Regions from separate parts of the Homo sapiens genome. Here region 2 is linked to region 1. The links come from fine-mapping of genetic effects on gene expression. A gene starts in region 1. The other region holds a variant in brackets. All regions are shown on one strand. Distances are from middle to middle.

Evidence for each region.
Region 2: its variant is fine-mapped to the expression of RABEPK in whole blood (INTERVAL, PIP 0.98).

What each region holds. Positions count from the first base shown.
Region 1 is chr9:125,195,680-125,205,511 of GRCh38, forward strand. It overlaps RABEPK (Rab9 effector protein with kelch motifs), which reads left to right and starts at 4,863. Exons shown (of 8, transcript NM_005833.4): 1 at 4,863-5,227; 2 at 7,329-7,387. The coding sequence starts at 7,335. LOC105376271 (a long non-coding RNA gene) reads right to left here and starts at 4,717. Exons shown (of 2, transcript NR_135145.1): 1 at 4,547-4,717; 2 at 3,854-3,976. It also overlaps the pseudogene RPSAP76. RefSeq lists a silencer at 4,741-4,790.
Region 2 is chr9:124,735,841-124,745,672 of GRCh38, forward strand. The region is part of intron 1 of NR6A1 (nuclear receptor subfamily 6 group A member 1); the gene reads right to left. LOC124900274 (a long non-coding RNA gene) reads right to left here. Exons shown (of 2, transcript XR_007061773.1): 1 at 8,677-9,832; 2 at 4,539-6,184. Among named protein-coding and RNA genes, the nearest start is that of NR6A1, 31 kb to the right of the region's middle. RefSeq lists an enhancer at 9,283-9,783. The variant C/A (reference allele first, on the strand shown) is at 5,535.

The DNA of each region.
Region 1 (9,832 bases):
ATGTAGATGCCATCACTTTTCCTTTTATAGATGTACTGTTCCATCTAGAAGTCAAGATTGGTGCCACTAAGTGGGTTCCTACTGCAAGGAACTTAAGGACATCCTCCTCCTTCATTTGCAGGACAGCAAGGGCTCTGGACATTGTGAAAGTTTCCCTTTAAGTTATGATGGGAATCCATAACAACCCCATATGGACCCCTCTGTGGGTAGCATAGAAAACTGGCTGTTTTTCTTTCTTTCTTTCTTTCTTTTTTTTTTTTTTTTTTTTGAGACAGGCTGTCGCCTTTTTTTTTTTTTCTGTCACCTAGGCTGGAGTGCAGTGGCACAATCTCGGCTCACTGCAACCTCTGCCTCCTAGGCTCAAGCAGTCCTCCCACCTCAGCCTTCCAAGTAGCTGGGATTACAGGCATGCATCTCCACACCTGGGTAATTTTTGTATTTTTAGTAGAGACGGGGTTTCACCATGTTGGTCAGTCTGGTCTCAAACTCCTGACCTCAGTTGATTGGCCCACCTCGGCCTCCCAAAGTGTTGGGATTACAGGCATGAGCCACTGCGCCCAGCCACAATTCACTCTTAATCTCTGAACCTCAGTAATTGGGAATAAATCCTATTCAAGATACCTTCTCAGAAGTGGGAAGGAAGACAAATAGGGAGATGGATGTGAATGTTCTTCATAAACTGTAAAGTGCTTAAAAGGAAGGTCTCACCGGCATTCATTACTTCCCTTGCTGATGCATCAGTAAAGAGGTCAGTGGTGTGCTGTTCCAGTGAAAATAGGTGGCAGTCCTCACATGACCACACTATCTGACAGGAGGAAGCTCCCTCCTGCAGACCCACCTCATTGAGTGAACATCATTCTTCACATCCACAGCAGAGAGAAAAGAAGAAAGCGTGCGTCAGAGTGTTGGGCAAGCTTTTAGGAGAGGTGTTAGACACTTCCAGTGGTTTGGTATGGAGATGGGGTAACAGAGCTTGATGACTGGAATGCATTCTTAGTCTTCCTTGCAAGAAATAAGAGATCTGGGTTCCTGGGTTCCTGGTTCTGCCATTTTATGTGGGGTAGTTATTTTAACTTCTCTGGGCCTTGATTTCCATTTTTAAAAATACATCTCTTGCCAGGCACAGTGGCTCACACCTGTAATCCCAGCACTTTTGGAGGCAGAGGTGGGTGAATCATTTGAGGTCAGGAATTCAAGACCAACCTGGCCAACATGGTGAAACCCTGTCTCTACGAAAAATACAAAAATTAGCCAGGCATGGTGGTGCGCACCTGTAGTCCCAGGTACTCAGGAGGCTGAGGCAAGAGAATTGCTTGAACCTGGGAGGCGGAGGTTGCAGTAACCTGAGATCATGACACTGCACTCCAGGCTGGGCGACAGAACAAGATTCCATCTCAAAATAAGTAAATAAATAAAAATAGAAATAGAAAATACATCTCAGGCAGCCTGGCGCAGTGGCTCACGCCTGTAATCCCAGAACTTTGGGAGACCGAGGTGGGTGGATCACGAGGTCAGGAGTTCAAGACCAGCCTGGCCAAGATGGTGAAACCCCGTCTCTACTAAAAATGCAAAAAAAAAATTAGCTGGGTGTGGTGGCGGGTACCTGTAATCCCAGCTACTTGGGAGGATGATGCAGAGAATTGCTTGAACCCGGGAGGCGGATGTTGCAGTGAGCCGAGATCATGCCACTGCACTCCCCCAGCTTGGGCGACAGAGCAAGACTGTCTCAAAAAAAAAAAAAGAAAATAGATCTCAGGCATTCCACATTCTCAAATGTGATTTCTAGTCTAAAAGCATAGGTTCAGCAGGCACGGTGGCTCATGCCTGTAATGCCAGCACTTTGGGTGGCCAAGGCAGGTGGATCATCTGAGGCTAGGAGTTCAAGACCAGCCTGGCCAACATGGTGAAATGCCGTCTCTACTAAAAGTACAAAAATTAACCATACGTGGTGGCCACGCCTATAATCCCAGCTACTTGGGAGGCTGAGGCAGGACAATTGCTTGAACCCAGGAGGCGGAGGTTGCAGTGAACTGAGGGCGCCACTGCATTCCATCCTGGGCGACAAATCGAGACTCCGTCTGTAAATAAATAAATAAATAGGTCCCGCAGTGAAAACTGGCTGCTATTTTGCCCACAAACCTCTTCCAATTTTTCTTGTTGATGTGCCACTCCAGCATGGCACCTTGAAACAGAGCTAGCCAGAAAACACCGGGGACATCAGAGCATTCTGCAGCTGTGAGCAGAAATGTACGTGGAGATGCACATGGACATATGGCAGAGCTAACCTGGACTTGGTTTTCTTTCCTGAAGGAGAGCAGAATGACTGAATATCCCTAAACTTCTCTTTGGCAGACAGTCAATGGGGATTTTTCCACTAAAGTGGGAACTCACAAAGACTCCATATGTTTGAAAGAGCCGCAGACCTTGAATTCCATTTTGTCAATAAATTTTGGTTATGGTTTCAAGTAGCTAAAATATTCCTTTCACCAACCTGGCCTTTCACCTGTATTAGCACATCCTCTGAACAGTTCTGTCTGCACAGCAGGTAATACTATCATCATTCTATAGATGAGGAACTAGGGTTCAGAGTGGGTAACTTGCCAAATGTCAGAGTTAGATGGTTAGTGCTGGACCCTGGATTTTTTTTTTTTGACAGAGTCTTGCTCTGTTGCCCCGGCTGGAGTGCAGTGGCACGATCTCGGCTCACTGCAACCTCCACCTCCTGGGTTCAAGTGATTCTTCTGCCTCAGCCTCCTGAGTAGCTGGGATTACAGGCAAACGCCTGGCTGATTTTTTTTTAGACAGAGTCTTGCTCTGTTGCCCAAGCTGGAGTGCAGTGGCATGATCTTGGCTCACCACAACCTCTGCCTCCCGATTCAAGCAATTCTCCTGCCTCAGCCTCCCGAGTAGCTGGGACTATAGGTGCGCATCACCGTGCCTGGCTAATTTTTGTATTTTTAGTAGAGATGGGGTTTCACTATGTTGGCCAGGCTGGTCTTGAACTCCTGACCTCGTGATCTGCCCTCCTTGGCCTCCCATAGTGCTGGGATTACAGGCATGAGCCACCACACCCAGCCTGGAGCTTGGATTTTAACCCAAGTATGTTTGATCTCTTCCCACTAAGCTACCATAGCTCTATACTCCAGGAGCTCCTGTTTCTAACCTGAGCTGTTTTCTCTATTTTCTAGGACACAGCGACAGTTTCAGAGACTGGAGTTCTTTGAAACAGACATAAGAGAGCAAGCCACCTCTCTATTTTCAGGAAAGACACAGAGAACCTATGGTTATGAACTAAAACAAAGATAATGTAGATTCTGAATATGTCTAGAGACATTGTTCATTTATAGTCAGGAATAGCTTTACCCTTGACAGAGAACTCTGTGCCAGCTGCTGGGTGCTGAGCACTTTTATTTACATTATGTCATGTATTCCCCACCACAACTACTACATACATCTCTCTTTTTTTTTTTTTTTTCTTGAGACGGAGTCTGGCTCTGTCACCCAGGCTGGAGTGCAGTGGCACTATCTCGGCTCACTGCAACCTCCGCCTCCCAGATTCAAGCAATTTTCCTGCCTCAGCCTCCTGAGTAGCAGGGATTACAGGCGCCCACCACCACGCCTAGCTAATTTTTGTGTTTTTAGTTGGGGGGGGGGGCGGGGGCGTTCACCATGTAGGCCAGGCTGGTCTCGAACTCCTGACCTCGTGATCCGCCCGCCTCGGCCTCCCAAAGTGCTGGACTTATAGGCGTGAGCCACCGCGCCCAGCCTATGATAGAAATCTTATTAGCTCCATGGTTACAAACAGACAACCCTGAGGCCTGGAGGAAAGTAACTTCAGAACAGATACTCTCCTGGCTGAACTTTATATTTATTGCACTCTTGGCAGTCGTCCCTAGTTGTCTTTTTCTTTGATCTCTCTCTAGTTAAGACTTGCTCCTGGAGGCAAAGCGTGGTGGTGTCTGGCTCAGCATAGCACCTGCCATAATTACAAATGGCAATTATGGAATGAATCAGCTGTTTAAAGCACCAAATCTTGAGCTGGCCCGAAGACTGCGCAGGAGGATTGCATGCTCAACTCTCCCCTTTAGAAACTGTTAACAATCGTTGTGGCCGGGCGCGGTGGCTCACGCCTGTAATCCCAGCACTTTGGGAGGCCGAGGCGGGTGGATCATGAGGTCAGGAGATCGAGACCATCCTGGCTAACAAGGTGAAACCCCGTCTCTACTAAAAATACAAAAAAAATTAGCCGGGCGCGGTGGCGGGCGCCTGTAGTCCCAGCTACTCGGGAGGCTGAGGCAGGAGAATGGCGTGAACCCGGGAAGCGGAGCTTGCAGTGAGCCGAGATTGCGCCACTGCAGTCCGCAGTCCCGCCTGGGCGACAGAGCGAGACTCCGTCTCAAAAAAAAAAAAAAAAAACAATCGTTGTAACTGGAAATGTAACTGTTATACCCTCCCCCCCTTTTATTTATTTATTTTTTTGAGAGGGAGTTTTTGCGCTGTTGCCCAAGCTGGAGTGTGGTGGCGCCCAGCCCTGTTAGCCCCTTACAGAGTAGATCAGCTGCCGCAGGCATCTGAGTTCCCCAAACGGACGCCCGAACCCGGCATTGCGCAAATCGTTTCCAAGTAGCCCCGGCTTATTTATCCCGTCCGGGAGGGAGGGACCCAGGGAAGGCCCACCCCACTTGGTTCCCGAGAAATGCAGAGCCTGGCGTCCACTCCCGGTCTGGGGGACCCCTCCACCGCCAGCCCAGGAAGTCAGCGCCGGGCCCTCGGGGCGGAGCAGGGAAGAGGGAGCGGTTGGCCCGGACGCTCTTCCGGGTCCTGGGAGGAGGGCCCGGACCTAAGCCCCGCCCCTCCGGGGTGGAGTCACGGCTCGCGACTGGCCTAAGTCGCCGCAGGTATTGCAGTCCGGGGCTGGAGGGTAGGGGCGAGGGTCCCCGGATACCGGGTCTATCACGGTCTCGGGCAGGGAGTCTGAATCTTTTAGGGGAGTGGGCCCAAGCCGGGTGCAAAGAACGGGGAAGGGCCTTCCCTGGCTCCGTCCCGGCCACTTTGACCGAATCAGCCTGTTCTTTCCCGACCCCGTCTCCTATCCCCTAGAACTGCCACGTGGGGATGAGATTTGCTGGGCTGGTAGCGGCGGCTGCTGCGGGAGGTCCCGCCCACGTGAAGCCAGCCTAACTGAGCTCTGGACTTTGGGGACAGCTGTCAGTGGCCTAGGCCGCAGGTGAGATTTATCCATTCATCTCTCAATCTATTTTCTTTCTTCATTCACTAGCCACTCCCCCACTTCTACTCCATGCCAGGTCCATTGGTAGGTTCTCGGAATGGATCTGACAGGCCCAGCCCTCTAGGAACTTAGTCTAGTGGAATTTAATCTAGAATCTAGTCTAGAAGCCTTAAATAGATAAACATTCCAAATGATTCCTGCAATGGTGATGGCTAATACCTTCAGAGCCCAGTGGGTGGAAGAAGGAAGTAACTTGGATGTGGGTGGAAGAGAAAAGGGCAAATCAGGGAAGGTTTCACCAGGGAAGGGACTTTTGAACTGGGCTTTGAAGGTTAACTAGGAGTTTGCAAATTTCCCAGAAGGGAAGCGACATTCCAAATAGGGGAAGCAGAACAGGCTGCAAAATTATGAAAAGGCCTGCCATATTACAAGAACAGCAAAAAAACCAATAATGCAAGAGATTGTGGAGGTGAGTTCACGGGAAAAAAGCTCAACAGCAGAAGGCCTTACTTTCTATGCTATGTTGAGGCCAAGATTTATCCCAGAGCTCAGTATTTCTCAGCTTCTTTAAATATTTTGTCCTTTGAGCGGAGAGCAGTGGCTCACACCTGTAATCCCAGCTTTTTAGGAGGCTGAGGTGGAAGAATTGCCTGAGGCTAGGAGTTCGAGACCAGCCTGGACAACAAAGCGAAACCTCCATTTCTATTTTTTTTTCTTTTTTTGAGGAGGAGTCTTGCTCTGTCGCCAGGCTGGAGTGCAAGTGGCGCAATTTCGGCTCACTGCAACCTCCGCCTCTTGGGTTCAAGCAATTCTCACGCCTCAGCCTCCTGAGTAGCTGGGACTACAGGCGTGGGCCACAACGCCCAGCTAATTTTTTTTGTATTTTTAGTAAAGACAGGGTTTCACCATGTTGGCCAGGATGGTATCGATCTGACCTCATGATCCGCCTGCCTCGGCCTCCCAAAGTGCTGGGATTACAGGCGTGAGCCACTGCTCCCAGCCCCGTTTCTATTTTTAATTAAAAAATAAATAAATGGCCGGGCTCAGTGGCTCACGCCTGTAATCCCAGCACTTTGGGAGGCCGAGGCGAGCCAAGTTCAAGACCAGCCTGGCGAACATAGTGAAACCCCATCCCTACGAAAAATACAAAAAAAATTAGCCAGGTGTGGTGGCACTTGCCTGTAGTCCCAGCTTACTCTGGAGGCTGAGGCAGGAGAATAGCTTGAACCCGGGAGGCAGAGGTTGCAGTGAGCTGAGATCCTGCCACTGCACTCCAGCCTGGGTGACAGAGTGAGACTCCATCTCAGAAAAAATAAAAATAAAAAATAAAGCCAGGCACGGTGGCTCATGCCTGTAATCCCAGCACTTTGGGAGGCTGAGGCGGGCAAATCACCTGAGGTCAGGAGTTAGTGACCAGCCTGGCCAGTGTGGTAAAACCCCGTCTCTACTAGAAAAGCTAGAAAAATGAGCTGGGCGTGGGTGGGCACCTGTAATCTCAGCTACTCAGGAGGCTGAGAAAGGAGAATCATTTAAACCTGGGAGGGGAAGGTTGCAGTGAGTGGAGATTGCACCACTGCACTCCAACCTGTGCAACAGAGTGAGACTCTATCTAAAAATAATAATAAAGATAAATACATAGGCCAGGCACGGTGGCTCACACCTGTAATCCCAGCACTTTGGGAGGCTGAGGCGGGTGGATCAGCTGAGGTCAGGAGTTCGAGACCAGCCTGACCAACATGGTGAAACTCCATCTCTACTAAAAATAGAAAAATTAGCTGGGCGTAGTGGCACATGCCTGTAATCCAAGCTACTCGGGAGGCTGAGGGAGGAGAATCGTTTGAACCTGGGAGGCAGAGGTTGCCATGAGCTGAGATCTTGCCATTGCACTCCAGCCTGGGCAACGAGAGCTAAACTCCATCTCAAATAAATAAATAAATAAATAAATAATAAAAATAAAGATGAAAAGTTGGTGATTCTTATTCAAATCAATCAGGCCTAGAAATTAGTACATTCAACAGGAAAGGTTTAAAAAGGAGGTTGAATTGATTAAGATGATAATCATAAGTGTCTAAAAAGTGCCTTTCTTTCTTATGCATAGGACACCATGAAGCAACTGCCAGTCTTGGAACCTGGAGACAAGCCCAGGAAAGCAACATGGTCTGTAAGGAAGGATCCAGACACAGAAAAGCATGAGTTTTTGTTTCATTTATAAGTAGTTTATTTACATATTTGATCATCAACAAAAAGGGGTAGAGATGAAACTGTCTGCAGTTTCTGGTAATTAGACTCAAACTGTCTGAGAAAGTCTTCAGAGGAAAGATAGGGGGGCAGTAATTATCACAGAGCAGATGTTAATTTTATTAAAATCCATTTACCAGAAAGAGTAAGGCACTGACCATCTGGCATCCTCAGCTCCAATGCTGTGTCTTCCCCCGAGCTCTGACTCATTTTTAAGATTTTTAGGAAATTAGATTTGGATTAAACTGGCTTCACTGTTTCTTGGCTGTTTGTTCAAACAACCCTTTATTCAACAACTAACATTGGCCTGATGGGGGCAGCTGCTCTGTGGGTGCTGGAGGTAGAATTGTAAATAGTCTCTGTGTACTGGGGACTACAGACTAAGCAGGTGATGGTGATAAAATGTGATCTGCTCTGAGTCAGGGCCCACAGAAGGTTGTAGAGAGGTGGCAGTTCTTCAACAGGACCTTGAAGGAGAGACTCCAGACTGGCTTCCATGCATCTGTCTTGCTCTGTACCCAGAATACAGCCAATCATGGCATTTCCTAGTTTAAAACCCTTTTGTGCCTCCCTGTTGGTGTTGGGATAAAAATCAGACTCCTGGGCTGGGCACGGTGGCTCATGCCTGTAATCCCAGCACTTTGGGAGGCCAAGGCGGGTGGATCTCCTGAGGTCAGGAGTTTGAGACCAGCCTGACCAATATGGTGAAACCCCATCTCTACTAAAAATACAAAAATTAGCTGGCATGGTGTTGTGCAACTGTAGTCCCAGCTACTAGGGAGGCTAAGACAGGAGAATTGCTTGAATCTGGGAGGCAGAGGTTGCAGTGAGCTGAGATCATGCCACTGTACTCCAGCATGGGCCACAGAGCAAGAATCCGTTTCAAAAAAAAAAAAAAAAAAAAAGGCCGGGCACGGTGGCTCATGCCTGTAATCCCAGCACTTTGGGAGGCCGAGGTGGGCGGATCACGAGGTCAGGAGATCGAGACCACTCTGGCTAACATGGTGAAACCCTGTCTCTACTAAAAATACAAAAAATTAGCCGGGCGTGGTGGCGGGCATCTGTAGTCCCAGCTACTCTGGAGGCTGAGGCACTCCAGCCTGGGCGACAGAGCGAGACTCCATCTCAAAAAAAAAGAAAAATCAGACTCCTGACCGGGCGCAATAGCTCATGCCTATAATCCTAGCACTTTGGGAGGCTGAGGTGGGTGGATCACTTGAAGCCAGGAGTTTGAGACCAGTCTGGCCAACATGGCAAAACCCCGTCTCTACTAAAAATACAAAAATTAACCGGGAGTGGTGGTGCATGCCTGTAATCCTGGCCACTCGGGAGGCTGAGGCAGGACAATTCTTGAACCTGGGAGGTGGAGGTTGCAGCAAGCCGAGATGGTGCCACTGCACTCCAGCCTGGGCGCAACAGAGGGAGACTCCGTCTCAAACAAACAAACAAACAAATTAGACTTCTTAAACTGGCCCAATGGTCCCTGCAAAATGTTTCTGCCTGTATTTCCAACCTCAAATCCCATGACTTGTTCCTTTGTTCTCTTTCTCTTCTTTATTGTGCCCTTTGCACTGTTCCACTCAGGAGCTGTTCATGCTGGTCTCTTTGCCTGGACTGCTCTTTCTGCCTGGAGTGCTCTTTCCCTCCACTTTTTGTCCCTCTCTTTTCCCAGCTTATTTTATTTTATTTTTGAGACAAGTTCTTCCTCTGTGGCTGGCCACCCAGGCTGGAATGCGGTGGTACAATTGTGGCTCATTATAGCCTCGACCTCCTGGCCTCAAGTAACCTTCCCATCTCCATCTCCCAAGTAACTGGGACTGTTGGTGTGTACTACCATGCCCAGCTAATTTTTTTTTTTAGAGACCCAGTCTCGCTATGTTGCCCAGGCTGGTCTCAAACTCCTGGGCTCAGGCGATCCTCCCACTCTAGCCTCCCAAAGTGCTGAGATTACAGGTGTGAGCCACCACACCTGGCCTACCCAGCTAATTTCTACTCATACTTCAGATCTCTCTCCAAATGGTGCTTCTTCAGGAAGCCTTCTCTGACCACCCTATCTCCCTGGCTCCTTACAGGGTGAGACCCTCCTAAGACATGCATGTCCTCATACTATATATTCTGTACTCCTTTCTACCACAATTGAAGTGAAACAGATAGTTGTGAAACTGTTGAATGTTTCTTTTCCCAACTAGTCTGTAAGGGCTATCAAGGCAGGGACTTTTTTTTGTTATATCCACCATCTCTGGATGGCTGTGTGCTTTTGGTAAATTACTTAACCTTTCTTAGCTTCAGTTCCTCCGTTGTAGAACTCAGATGATGGTAACAGCTGTTATCCTCAAAGCGTTTTTTTAGTTTTTGTTTGTCTTT
Region 2 (9,832 bases), 460 kb before region 1:
CCTTATCACTGTTCTCACATGGTAGAATGAGCTCTTTAGGGTCTCTCTTATAATGGAACAATCACCTCCCAAAAGGCCCCCATGCTAATACCATCACCTTGGAGGTTAGGATTTCAATATGTGAATTCAGGGGGATCACAAACATTCAGACCATAGTACCAGGCAATGAGAAAATAATTCATCACTACACACGGATTGAATGTTGAACATCATGCCAGAAGTGAAACTGAGAATAAGCATTCACTTCATGTAAATTGACTCAAAAACGGGACAAAAGTACAGGAAAGCAGGCTGGTACAATGGGAAGGTTAGACCTCTCCTAGGTTCTAACTCAAGCCACCTTTAGTTATATGACTCCCTATTCTGGGCCTCAGACTACTTTGGACATTAAATGAACGGACTATACTAGAAGTCTCAAAAAAGGACAAAGCCTAATGTACCTTCTGAAAGTGCCCATTGTTGTGAACTCAAGTAAATGATCAAACAAAAATAGAGGGTGACTCAAAAACAAAGAAAATACTAAGTAAAATATTTAAGATGGACATCTATTGCTTTTATCTGCCTAGCAACCACTCCCCACTTCTGTTAATGGCACCCTGATTTTTCTTTGCAGACTTCTATTCAAAGGCCACATGATCCAAGGAGAATTGACCCTAACTTTGTTGTAAATTGGGATCAACAACAGCACCTACCTTATGGGGATGTCAAAAGAATTAAATGAGACCAGGTACAGTGGTGCATGCCTGTAATCCCAGCACTTTGGGAAGCCGAAGCAGGAGGATCGCTTGAGCCCAGGAGTCGGAGACCAGCCTGGGCAACATGGTGAAACCCTATCTCTACCAAAAAAATACAAAAGTTAGCCAGGTGTGGTGGTGTATGCCTGTAATCCCACCTACTTGGGAGGCTGAGGTAGAGATCACCTGAGCTTAGGAGGTCGAGGATGCAGTGAGCCATGATCGTGCCACTACACTCCAGCCTGGGCAACAGAGTGAGACCAGGTCTCAAAAAATAAAGAATTAAATGACACAGTGAATATAAAGGCTTTGCACAGTACTTGACAAAGTAAGACCTCTATATATGTAAGCTGCTACTAACTAATCTCTAGGGTCCATCCAATTCAGTGCTGTGTCTATGGAAGCAAAGTGTAGATTATAGCAGAGTTACTATTAAACCATTCATGGCATCATCCTCAAAGACCTGGGATGGAACCCTAATATCACTAATGTCACTTTGGTTACTTGCTGTGGTTCTTGAACTTTTACATTTTCAGCCTGTAAAGTGCTTGATGTGGTGATTCCAGATGTTTGCTACTTCCTGAGGAAAGACTCTATATTCACACTAAAAAAAATCCTCCAAGGGTCACAAAGATCCTGATTATAAAATTCAGTAATTACATCTACATTCCCTCGACCTAGTCCTGAGACCACTGCTATTATGTTGTCTCTGGATTTACAGATCATCACTAATGCAGGAGCCTTGAAGATATATGGAGAACAATGTTAATCTTACCTACAAACCACATACCTACTGACCACAAGGCAATGAAATGGCCACAGCTAGCTACTATTGTCAAGCAGAGTTTTGCCCAGATTCTCAGCAACCACATCTAGCTGGCAAAATGATTCTTAGCTAGAAGAACCCAAACCACTGCTAGATGTAACCCCAAATGTACGTTAAATTGGATTTATTCAATTAGATTCAACTCAAAGGCAATCAGAGTTGTTCAGCAGAAAGCAGAATCTTGGCCGGGCGCAGTGGCTCACACCTGTAATCCCAACACTTTGGGAGGCCAAGGTGGGTGGATCACTTGAGGTCAGGAGTTCGAGACCAGCATGGCAAAAATGGTGAAACCCCATCTCTACTAAAAAGACAAAAATTAGCCTGGCATGGCAGTGCACACCTGTAATACCAGCTACTTGGGAGGCTGAGGCAGAAGAATCGCTTGAACACAGAGGCAGAGGTTGTAGTGAGCCGAGATTATGCCACTGCACTCCAGCCTGGGGGAAAGAGCAAGACTCCTTCTCAAAAACCAAAAAAAAGAGGCTGGGCGCGGTGGATCACCTGAGGTCAGGGGTCCTAGACCAGCCTGACCAACATGGTAAAACGCCATCTCTACTAGAAATACAAAAATTAGGCGGGGCGTGGTAGCTCACGCCTGTAATTCCAGCACTTTGGGAGACTGAGGTGGGCAGATCACGAGGCCAGGAGTTCAAGACCAGCCTGGCCAACATAGTAAAACCCCGTTTCTACTAAAAATACAAAAATTAGTCTGGCGTGGTGGTGCACACCTGTAGTCACAGCTACTCAGGAGGCTGAGGCAAGAGAATAGCTTTAACCTGGGAGGCGGAGGTTGCAGTGAGCGGAGATCGCGCCACTGTACTCCAGCCTGGGCAACAGAGCAAGACTCTGTCTCAAAACAAAACAAAACAAAAAGAAAAGCAGGCTCTTAAGCTTCATAAATAAACAAACATACCCCCAAACCCACCTGTCGCACAGAATACAACATATTAAACAGATCAGGAAATTTTCTGAGAAATCCAGGAAATTTTCTGAGAAATCCAGGGTCTTTGTATGGTGACTTAAATTGCTTTCAAAAGGAAAAGAGAGACAAGAAACAGATTGGTTCCTAAGATGATATCACCAAGTCAGTGTGCACACAAGCAATCTGAAATGTTACTGCAAAGGTTATATTCACTTGCCTCAGTTTAACTAGGAAGATAAATGCGTACTGAAAAAAGGACACGGGGGCCGGGCACAATCGCTCACGCCTGTAATCCCAGCATTTGGGGAGGCTGAGGCAGGTGGATCACCTGAGGTCAGGAGTTCAAGACCACCCTGACCAACATGGTAAAACCCCATCCCTACTAAAAATACAAAAATTGGGCCGGGTGCAGCGGCTCACACCTGTAATCCCAGCACTTTGGGAGGCCAAGGCGGGAGGATCACGAGGTCAGGAGTTTGAGACCAGCTTGGCCAACATAGTGAAACCCCATCTCTACTAAAAATACAAAAATTAGCCAGGCGTGGTGGCGCATGCTGTAGTCCTAGCTACTCGGGGGGCTGAGGCAAGAGAATCATTTGAACCCGGGAGGCGGAGGTTGCAGTGAGCCAGGATCACCCCACTGCACTCCAGCCCAGACAACGAAGCAAGACTCCATCTAAAAAAAAAAAAAATACAAAAATACAAAAATTAGCTGGGCTAATTTTGGTGGTGGCAGGTGCCTATAAGCCCAGCTACTCAGGAGGCTGAGGCAGGAGAAATGCTTGAACCTGGGAGGCAGAGGTTGCAGTGAGCCCAGATCACATCACTGCACTCCAGCCTGGACAACAGAGCGAGACTCCATCTCAAAAAAAAAAAAAAAATGGGGGCGGCGAGGGTATGGGTATGAATTAGAATTAGATTCAAATCCCAGATTTGCTATTATCAAATTAACTACTCCAAACCCATGTCTTGGAATGAGGATAAAAATAACCATCACATTCAATTGTCATGAGATTTGGTGAATATATGTAAATCATCTACTTTATGGCAAGTAATCAGCAAATGGCTCTAAGTCTAGGAATCTTATTTCATACAAGAGAAAGTTCCAGTTGACAAGCTCTTCTCCAAATAGGCGTTTTGTTTGCTTTTTAAACAAGGTCTTGCTTCTGTAGCCCAGGCTGGGGTGCAGTGGCACGATCATGGCTCACTGCAGCCTTGACCTCTAGGACCCAAGCAACCCTCCTACTTCAGCCTCCCAAGTAGCTGAGACTACAGGTGTGCACCACCACACATTTGACAAAAAGGCATTTGACAAAAAGAAAATGATCACTGATTCCTCAAATTGTGACTGGCTATCATGAGAGATTAAAATGTCACTGATCTTTTTCCTTTTTGATATTTTGACTATAAAATTGTAAATTTACCATGACAGAAACTTAAATAAACTTCTGAGTATCACCAGTCAGCAAATTAAGGTGTGAAACACTAGCTAATTATACTCTATAATGTGTTAGAGTTACTCAAGCAATGTTTTAGTTTGACTGTAGGAAGACAATATAGTGCAACAGAGACATGGACTCTGGTTAACGTTCTGCTAGTTACTCAGTCTCTTTTGAAGCCTCAATAACCCATATGTAAGATTAAGGCCCTTAAAAGGTAAAATTCTACAATTCTAATCAACTATCTCTTTCTACAAAACAGAAGTTGTATGTGTCTCTCATGATTTGCCAACCACTTTATCTCTTGCTTTTCATAGCATCCTACCCAACAGTGTATACTCCATCCACACTGAAGTACATCGTGGCTCCCAGAATTCAACACGCTCTTTGGCCTCAATTCCTTTACACATGCTATTTTCTCCACCTGAGCCCACCTTTACTCACCACTGACATAAGGACTCAAGTCAGGTCTCCTCTAATTTCCCCCTCCCTTTCCTGCAAACACTCAAGTCTGAGTTAGGCACTACAAACAACATGGCTGAAACTATAGTTTTTCAGGGACCTATGAGGAAGAAAAAGACTGGTTTCAAAATCCAAAACACAAACACATCTGCAAATTTGAAATTCAAATGTTTTAATTAAATATGAGATAACGTTATTTCACTTAGTCAATTGCAATTCAAGTCTTATATAGTTTTAAACATGAGATACAGTGACACAGGGCTTGTAGGACTAAGAAAGCCAAAGGTCAAAATAGGTCTTGAAATTGCTCTGACGAATTCTGTGTGACTCTTCTATGCTCCCACAGGTTCCTGTGCTTTACACACCACAACCATATCATGATCAGGACCACTAGAACCTGAATTCAGAGAACCCAAGGTTTCAGAGAAGTCTGTTTTTCCAGGATCCCCAAGAAAAAGTTAAAAATCTTTACCCAGGTTTTCTATTGATATACAACAGTCATTCACTGGTCTTTCCTAGACCAATCCCCTCTAGTCAGCTGTATCAGTTTCCCATCTACCTTGTCTCCCGTGATCATGATTTGGCACCCAATAAAACTCTTGACTAGATCAGTCAAATCTAGTCTCAACCCCAAAGATAACCCCAGCCCTGGGCCTGAGACATGTCCCAGGAAAGGCAGCTCAATAAATGTTTGAAGAACTGTTTCTTTCACCAGAAGACAATAATGGTAAGCTACAATGCCACTACAATGAATTTCTTGCCAAAATAACAAATTTCAAGAGAACAATTTCACTATTCTCAACTTTTAAAGCCTAGATAAGCACTGTCCAATAGAAATTTCTACAATGACGAAAATGTCATATATCTACACTGTCCAATACAGTTGCCACTAGCTACATGTGGCCAATGAGTACTTGGAATGTGACTGGCGTGAATGAGGAACTGAATTTTTAACTTTACTCTTAATTTAAATGGCCGTATGAGGCTGGTGGCTATGAAACAGTGAAAACATAGTTGTCGTCCCTCTTTGTAAATTTGTCACACCACATGTTTTGGATATACATGCTTAAAAAAATAAAATATGGAAATGTTTAGGCCAGTATTATTTACTAGCCAATTTATAGCTGTGTCAGCTGTTATAAGAATAGGTC[C/A]ATCAGCCTGCAAATGCAGTCACTTACTCCTTCAAATATTAAGTATCTACCCATACTGTAACAGGCCAGAGGCCTCGAAGGTAGAGATATGAATAAGACTGACTACAGAGAATTAATAGTCTCTAGGAGTACAGAGCAGACAAAAATAACTGTAGAGCCTGACAATGCAAATGCACTTAATGCCACTAAGTTGTACACTTCAAATGGTTAAAATGGTAAATTTTATGCTACGTATATTTTACCACAATTTTTAAAAAGATTAAAGCCTACTGAAGAAAAAAGTTGAAACAATATTTTCGAAAAAATTAACACTATGGGACAGATGGACATGATACACTGGGAAGCAGTGCAGAGTAGAAAGAGCATAAATTTTTATTTCAGAATAGGTTTGAGTCCTGGCACCATTACTTACTAATTGTGTTAGCTTAGGAAATGACTTCACCCTCTGGGCCAATTTCCTCATCTGTCGATTATGAGTACTCAATGATATGATGCACTGAGGTCAGTGAAAGTGCTCGGTAGCCATGATCGATATCAGGGAGAAGAGAAGCAGCAATCATGGAGCCAGGAGCACAGAGAGGAGACAGGCATTCACCAGGCAAACAGGGCTATTTGAGAAACATATTTAGAGGAAGCAGCATGTGAAAGCACTAAATAGAGAGAAAAAACAGAATGTTACTTGGTAATTTGACTTGATTGGAATCTCAGCAGGGCCTTATCATAAAGACCTTCAACTGTCATACATGAAGAGTTTTTGGTTTTTATCCTATAGGCAACAGTGACTGAAAATATATGTACACCTAGGAAGTTTGTCAGTAACAGCCCAACTCTCATTACTTCAATACAGGGGCTCTAAAATTTCAACCAGAAAACCAAAAGCACAAGGAGTTTTAAAAAAATAAAAGAGGCCGGGCACGGTGGCTCACGCCTCTAATCCCAGCACTTTGGAAGGCCGAGGTGGGCAGATCACCTGAGGTTAGGAGTTTGAGACCAGCCTGGCAAGATGGAGAAACCCCGTCTCTACTAAAAATACAAAATTAGCCGGGTGTGGTGGCGCATGCCTGTAATCCCAGCTACTCGAGAGGCTGAGGCAGGAGAATTGCTTGAACCAGGAGGCAGAGGTTGTGGTGAGCCGAGATCGCACCACTGCACTCCAGCCTGGGCAGGAAGAGCGAAACTTCGTCTCAAAAAATAAAAATAAAAATAAAAAATAAAAGAGCAGCTGGGCACTGTGGCTCACGCCTGTAATCCCAGCATTTTGGGAGGCTGAGGTGGGCGGATCACGAGGTCAGGAGATGGAGACCATCCTGGCTAACACGGTGAAACCCCGTCTCTAGTAAAAACACAAAAAATTAGCCAGGCATGGTGGTACGCGCCTGTAGTCCCAGCTACTCAAGAGGCTGAGGCAGGAGAATCACGTGAACCCGGGAAGTAGAGGTTGCAGTGAGCCGAGATGGTGCCACTGCACTCCAGCCTGGATGACAGAGCGAGACTCTGTCTCAAAAATAAAAAATAAATTAAAAATAGAAATAAAAGAGCTTTGTTGAGGCAGCCAAAACACACATGGCTAGCCATCCATAGACCTCCTTTAGATTCTAGAAACTTCCCTTTGGGGGGGCCCTTCCTCCACTCTATCTTCTAGTCTCCTTTTGGTACAATGAATGGCTTTGGCATGAGGCTGAGAAGGAATGCAGCTTTATTTTGGTGGTGGGAAGTAACAAACATGAACTACACAGCCTGCCTTACAGCCATATCTGCAGCCTGCAAGCAGCTCCAGACCTAGGCAGATACAGGAACACTTTTCTTGGATTGGCTGATTAAATTCACACCTGCCTCTTGCTTTTCTATCCAGTGAGTGGGATGCCACTTGGGCCATTAGCTTTTGTTTCTCACAGGCAGCTTGACAAACCATACTTAAAGAATAACAGAAAATGCTTTTGAATGCAGAAACATAGCACCACAAGTCCATATAGCAAAAGCTATCTGGTAGAGCTTTAAGTAGTAGCTCTTTTCTCCACCTACAAATGTCATGGTCACATTTTTAAAAGTGCAACAAAAACAATACCCTTTTCCTAATGTAATTTTCTTAAACATGAAATCTTAGGGGGATACTATGCCCATGTATTTGCTCAGCTTAAATGCAGTACACGAGTGTCTATATTTCTATGGAAACATTAATAACTTCCATCTGATCAACCTACATCACCTTTCATATAGTTTTTCCGGCTTCTAGCTTTGCAATTACAGCCTTGAAACCAGACTGAAGGCAGAAAAGCCAGCCCAAGATTATGACATTTCAATTTTAAAACATTTTTAAAAAATAAAGACAGTACACAGCTTTCAAGGCTGTAGCTATAGAATCAAAAGGTGAAAACGGTTTAGGAAGGCAATTCAGTCTGATGAGTCAGAGGTCATTAGTGTTTCTATGGAATTACAGCACAGGCATTTCTCAGAAAACTGCACGTACTGATGATTCTCTGGCATTTTTCATTTGCAATTTTTGGTTCTCTGGAGGAACAAAAGGGACTGTTGATAATCCTTCATTTGTCTTGGAGGTTAAGAAATTTCAAGGCCAGGCACAGTGGCTCACGCCTGTAATCTCAGAACTCTGGGAGGCCAAGGCAGGAGGATCCCTTGAGCTCAGGAATTGAAAACCAGCCTGGGCAATATAGTGAGACCTCTACAACAACAACAAAAATATGTCTGTCTTTTTCAATTAGCTGGGCGTGGTGGCATGCACCTATAGTCCCAGCTACTTGGGAGGCTGAGGTGGGAGGACCACTTGAGCCTGGGAGGTTGAGGCCGCAGTGAGCCAGGATCACTGCACTCCAGCCTGAGTGACAGAGCAAGACCTTGTCTCAAACAAAAAAAGAAAAGAAAAGAAATTTCAAAATGCAAAATACTTAATACAGAAAAATATAAGAAAATGTATACAATAATCTGTCAGTTGCCATTTATTGAATCTATTACTATAAACCAGGCATCAGCTTGACACTTTACATGAATTCTTACTGAAAAATAGCTACTATTGTCTCCATTTTATAGATCTAAACAGATCATTGTACTCCATTACATGGAAAGAGCCACAAAAGTCAAAACAAGAGAACTTCTATTGAAAGCATCTTGACTAATAAAACCCTACCTTTGCGCAGTGCATGTTCTGCAACAGCCGGATGGATGGGAACTTAGCATAATCTCAAAGAGCAACCCTGATGCTCCCATAACAGCAGGACCTCAACGTCCAAGAAGAATACCACACCTTACTTGAGCCCATTTACAAGTCACCTCCTGAAAAATCCAAGATGCCTGTCAGAAGCAGCTACTGAGGGAAGTGAAGATGTTTTTATTTGTTCATTGTCATTGTGAAGACTGACTAAAGTCTTACTGATCAAGGAGTTTGTTTGAACATGGTCAGAGAGCTTTCAAAGTCATTTCAGAAAGTGCCCCACACCATCCTCAACAGATGGTTTGATGGAAGAGAAGTAGCCAGCTCTGCTCAGGAAATCCATTAGTAAGGTGCAGATACCACCAAAGAGATGTCCCACATGTGGCAGAATGTACCTTTTTCCTTATTTTCTTTAAAATCTCCATATAAAAAGGGAAGATGGATGCATGAGGGCCTAGAAAATGTTTATCCCTCTGGATCAATCTTAGGAATCTATCCTAAGAATCAGAAATACAGAAAATAGTACAAAACTCGAGGCCATCTAAAAATTCAAACACAGGAAAATGATTAAATTATGTACACTTATTCAATGGAATATTTTGCGAACACTATAAATGTTTTCCAAGAGTTTACAAAGGGCAAATACCATATTAAAAATACAATGTAAAACTGTATTCTTGGAATGAGCTCAGGTATATTCCAATACATATATACATGAAAAAAAAAACACTTTGGTCCATTTTCTCTTAGTGATTATCTCTTAGTATAACTAATTTTTCTTCCTCCATTCTACTTTTCTGATTAAAATATATTGTTTTTATAAACAGAAACATACATTAAAAAAATCCTGGCAGGGCACAGCGGCTCACGCCTGTAATCCCAGCACTTTGGGAGGCTGAGGCGGGCAGATCACCTGAGGTCGGGAGTTTGAGACCAGCCTGCCCAACATGGACAAACCCCGTCTTTACTAAAAATACAAAATTAGCCGGGCATGGTGGCGCATGCCTGTAGTCCCAGCTACTTGGGAGGCTGAGGCAGGAGAATCGCTTGAACCCGGGAGGCAGAGGTTGCAGTGAGCCAAGATCGTGCCATGGCACTCCAGCCTGGGCAACAAGAGTGAAACTCTGTCTTA